Regions from separate parts of the Homo sapiens genome. Here region 1 is linked to region 2. The links come from fine-mapping of genetic effects on gene expression. Tissue or cell type: whole blood. Region 2 holds a variant in brackets; the other region holds the start of a gene. All regions are shown on one strand. Distances are between the middles of the regions.

Region 1 (2,762 bases), 65 kb after region 2:
TGGAATATGGGGAAAACACCTTAGCCCTAGCTCAACCTACAACTGCCTCCTCTCAGCCTATGTCTCTACCTCTGTCCCTCTTTAGCCTTCTCCATCCTCAGCTGTGTCTGTGCATTTGGATGTGGGGACCAGGTTGGTCTTAGACATTCAGGGAAGGGCCAGCATTAAGCAAAATGCAAGAAGGCAAACCTGTTCCCAGGTGTCCCCTTCTACTATTTCTATTCCTATGTTCTCCCTGATTCTTGTTTACCCTCCTTAAAATCTACTGGGGGAAGGAAGTGATAACAACACATTGCATTAAACTGTATATTTTAAGCCTTCTTTAAATGAGGAGCACATATTTTGTTCCTCTGTCTAAAGGAGTTTTAAGTATTTGAGAAGATAAAGTCTCCATCTTGGTCCCTGAAACCCTCCACCCCTGAAAAAATCCACAGAATCATTCAAGAGTTTTCAAATATATTTCCTATTGTGAAATAGTTTACTGAAATAAGATCTTCCCAGAAGCCCAGTATGTGAAGCAGATAAAAGCTGAGCCACTGTGGGGCAGAGTGTGCTAATCTCCGAACCCAGATGGCCCCTAAAGAGCCCCTCAAAGCTCCAGGACTCTCCAGAGAAGTCTGAAAGCCTTTGGAAAGTCACCGAGGTTGGTTGTAAAGACACCTAGCATCCAGTCTTCATTCCATCCTGATTCTACCATTAATAAGTTTCGTGTGTAATCCCAGCCCTTTGGGAGGCCAAGGCAGGCAGATCATGAAGTCAGGAGTTCGAGACCAGCCTGACCAAAATGATGAAACCCCGTCTCTACTAAAAATACAAAAAAATTAGCTGGGTGTGGTGGCGTGCACCTGTAATCCCAACTACTCAGGAGGCTGAGGCAGGAGAATCACTTGAACCCGGGAAATGGAGGTTGCAGTGAGCCGAGATCGTGCCACAGTACTACAGCCTAGGCGACAGAGTGAGACTCCATCTCAAAATAAATAAATAAATAAATAAATAAGTCTCATGACCTTGAGTGGGGTCTCGTACCCCTATAGATTTCAGTCTTCTCATCTGCAAATCGAGGAAGACAGAATCATCCACCTCTCATTTGCTGCCAGGCCTGAGGGTGTATGATGAGTCCACTCAGATCCACACATTTTAGTGTGTTCCCTCCCTACCAGTATTTGCATTTTCACTGAAGACAAAGTCTTAAGGTGAAGCAATAAACATCAAATTGGGGAATGGTCAGCCTCTTCCCACAAAAGGGCAAGGTATAAAAAGAGGGGATGAGGAGGCTGTCCTCTTCACCTGCTAACTCCATGTATGAGTGGTGGTCACAAGAGAGGAAGCGGGCAGCAGAAATCCTCAGCTCCCACAGAAATGAATACATTTTCCAAAATAAAGTCAAGCCAAGCAGCCCTACCCCACAGAAAGTCCTAGCAAACAGAGGTGGCTTCCTACCTGAAGCACCGGCCAGGTGTGTCCAACAGTAGGAGCTGCAGTCAGAGATCAGAGTGACTTAACAGCTAGAGGGCACTTGATGAATAAACGGAAATAAGGAAACCACATCAGATGACACCTCCCTTCTGAGCCCCACCCATGTCTACATTTGGGGAAGAACAGTTTAAGTCAAGGGATCACAGACTTGTGATTAGAGACTGCCAGGGTCCATATGACCAAGTGGGGGTCCCAGGTGTGAAGCTGGGGTTGAGGGTCCATTATCTGAATTCTCCACTCTATGGATGATCATTTTTATTATTTTCCTTTTCTTGAATTTATTTCCATTTGTTTATTCCTAAATTCCCTAGTATATCACCTGTGGAAGCTTGCAACTTCCTGACCAAGTATAAAGGGCGAAGGATTTGACTTACAGCAGAGACTTCAGAAGGAGTCCCCCATAGGAGGGACTTGGGGGCAATCCAGTGGGAAAGAGGAGGAGGACTGCGCTTGAGTTGTGTTTGAACAGCAGGCACTCAATCTCTACTTATTTTGCAGGCTTCTTTGAGGTGGCCTAGCTCGGATTCAAGGCATTCTCATCAAGGATGTGAGAGCAGTTACTGGGATATCCTTGGCTTCCCTGTTGGTTTGCCAACGAGAGCTCCCCTTCCTCCTTTGCCTCCAACCTGGTCTTCTTTGGAGGTTGGCTTCCCAGTGTTCTCCACCTTCCACAACTCCAAGGCCTGGCCTCAATCTCTACTTATTTTTCAGGCTTTTTGAGGGTATTTGAATGGAACACAAACCCTCCTTTGCCGCCAGCCACTCTTTCGCACAATCACTGCCAATGACCAGTTGGTTTAAATGGCCCTGAGGCTGACGGCATAGGCCACTCCCAGAGTCTGGCTGGTTAGCAGAGAGACCACAGAGCTGGGGCAGTCCATGAATGGAAGAGCTGTGGTCAAGGTCACTGCAGCCCCCATCTCAGTAACGGAGAATGGCTTCTCTGGGAACCCACCTTAGCTGCCTCCAGCAGCTAATGGCTGTCCCCTAGCTTGAGTCTTCTGGCACCTTCGTCACTTCTCCATATAACATGAACCCTGCTGTGAGGCATTTACAAGTCAGCCCTCTTCTAGCTTGGGAGCCATGAGACAGCAAGAACCTTCTTCAATTCATGTTTATGTTCTCTTTCAGGGAATATAGTAGGTGCTCAATCAATGGTTGTGGAATAAATGAAGGGAGACATTTCTCCTGTGATTCATGGACCATAAGTCACCACCACGATTCAGTGTCTATTGCTTTTGGCTACACACTAAAGTCACTGGTATGCCTGATAGCTTCACTTCCAC
Region 2 (2,762 bases):
TCCTACCATGGCAAAGCAGGAGAGAGAGAGTGAAGGCGGAAGGGCTACACACTTTCAAACAACCAGATCTCATGAGAACTCACTCACTATCATGAGAGCAGCAAGGGGGTTATCCACCCCCAAGATCCAATCACCTCCCACCAGCTCCCTCCTCCAACACTGGGAATTACAATTCGACATGACATTTGGGTAGGGACATGGAGCCAAACCATGTCATCGAGTATGAGGACTAGAATGCAAAAACAAACCCATTAAGACCTTGTCTGGGTTTTCTCAGACCCTAAAGTCTGATCAAATAATAAAAGCATTCTAACACATATACCTCATACCAGGGCCCACTTAAGATTAAGAAACTTTCCAAGGCTCTAGAGAAAGTTTTCCAGACCCCAAACTCTAGTTAAAGATTAGATATAGATTGAATGAAACACTCTGGCTTGTAGCTGCACTCCCACATGTAGTCATAGAGTGTAAAATATATATAAGCACTGGGGAAAAATTTGTAACTTTGAGTTGGTCTGGTGAGTTGCTCCAACCTTCTCCCTGTAACCATTTACAGAAATAAACTCCCTTCTTTCCCAGTCTGTCTGCATCTTGTTATTGGACCCTAAGTGCAAGCAGCCGGACCTCATTCATCTGGGAACACTTATGTGTTATTTGTGTCTCTTGAAGACAGCAGATATTTGATGGGTGGTTTTTAAATCAATCCTGCCACTCTGTATCTTTTAAGTGGAGCATTTAGGCCACTTACATTCAATGTTAAAACTGGGATGTTCTGTCTGGAATTGGTTCCTTCCGGTGGGTTCTTGGTCTTGCTGACTTCAAGAATGAAGCCACGGACACTCGCAGTGAGTGTTACAGTTCTTAAAGATGGTGTGTCCGGAGTTTGTTCCTTCAGATGTTCAGATGTGTCCAGAGTTTCTCCCTTCCGGTGGGTTCGTGATCTTGCTGACTTCAGGAGTGAAGCCGCAGACCTTCGCAGTGAGTGTTACAGCTCTTAAAGGTGGCGCGTCCGGAGTTTTTTGTTCCTCCTGGTGGGTTCGTGGTCTCACCGACTTCAGGAGTGAAGCCACAGACCTTCGCAGTGAGTGTTACAGCTCTTTTTTTTTTTTAATTTTACATTTTGTTTTATTTTATCAAAGTTATGCTTGGTTCCAGATCTGTGAGACAATATTTTTAATATGGAAAACAGAACATCAACAAAACAAACAAGAAAATGACTTGCAGCCTTGAAGTA[C/T]ACTCAGGGCAAGGTAGTGTGGGTGACCATCTGATTAAAGAAGCTAAGTCAGAGCCAGAAATCACTTTATGTTTTAAGTATAATAATCAACAAGTCAGAATCACAGCCGATAATTAAACTTCTTAGGCAGTTGCTTCATCATAACATTCATTTCTGCATACATACTTTCAGGTTGGAAGTAGAAATTCTCAAATGTCTGAATAACCAATATACAAAAACAATTCTGAAGACGTTAATTAAAGAAGCACCTTCAAACAGTGTTCTCTGATTCAAAAAGTTTTAAAAGGGGCTTGGATTTGGAGGAATGCAGGAGGCAGCCAGATGGATGGGGAGAAAGGAGGATGGTCAAAGAGGCAGAGCCCTTTGCTATGAGAATCAACTTCAACCAGAAAAGATCCACTTTTACTAATTTTACAAAGTAGGATTTCACATGAGTTATCTTTAAAAATATCTTCAAAGAAAGTGTTTACTTACTTTAAAAAGAGAGTCCAAAAATCACTGTCCTAAAGAATGGATATGTTTTGTTACAAAAGTAGAGGCAATAAGAAATTTGTAGTATAGTGATGTTAAGGAAGAAAACTAACTTCTGAGCTATTGTCTACATTTCTGTTCATTTAATTCCATTCTCTCTGAGCCATCCCGGTGCCTCCTTGTTATGAGAATACCCCCTTATCTTATACCATCCAACAAACAGAATCCTGTAATTCCTTTGGTAGATTTGGGATTCTGGTTTACATAACTATTGACTATGGCAGAAACACCTAGGATACTATCTCAGTGTGTTTACATGGTTCTTTTTGATTCTACATTTAGATGGTGCCTTTTTGCTTATTATGCTTGTTACTTATAGGGAATGTGGTTTTACAAGCTAAGATCTTCTTGGCTGTGGTATTATTCCATGTAGAAATTAGCTCAGCTCCTTCTAGTCACTAAGAGACCAAAGGCTGTAGTAACTCTGTCTCCCTATCACCTCTCTGGATTTCTATGTGGTCCATGACTCCTGTAAGACTAATTTCTTTTTTTTTTAATTATACTTTAAGTTCTAGGGTACATGTGCACAATGTGCAGGTTTGTTGCATATGTATACATGTACCATGTTGGTGTGCTGCACCCATTAACTCATCATTTACATTAGGTGTATCTCCTAATGCTATCCCTCTTCCCTCCCCCCACCCCATGACAGGCCCCAGTGTGTGATGTTCCCCACCCTGTGTCCAAGTGTTCTCATTGTTCAATTCCCACCTATAAGTGAGAACCTTGAAATAGTTTGCTCAGAATGATGGTTTCCAGCTTCATCCATGTCCCTACAAAGGACGTGATCTCATCCTTTTTATGGCTGCATAATATTCCATGGCGTATATGTGCCACATTTTCTTCATCCAGTCTATCATTGACAGACATTTGGTTTGGTTCCAAGTCTTTACTATTGTGAATAGTGCTGCAATAAACATATGTGTGCATGTGTCTTTATAGCAGCATGATTTATAATCCTTTGAGTATATACCCAGTAATGGGATGGCTGGGTCAA

What was found. PIP is the estimated chance that this variant, and not a neighbour inherited with it, causes the effect.
Region 1: it holds the start of CXCR1, and the variant in region 2 is fine-mapped to the expression of CXCR1 in whole blood (INTERVAL, PIP above 0.99).

The regions. Positions count from the first base shown.
Region 1 is chr2:218,165,468-218,168,229 of GRCh38, forward strand. CXCR1 (C-X-C motif chemokine receptor 1) reads right to left here and starts at 1,495. Exons shown (of 2, transcript NM_000634.3): 1 at 1,441-1,495.
Region 2 is chr2:218,100,358-218,103,119 of GRCh38, forward strand. No RefSeq gene overlaps it. Among named protein-coding and RNA genes, the nearest start is that of CXCR2, 24 kb to the right of the region's middle. The variant C/T (reference allele first, on the strand shown) is at 1,235.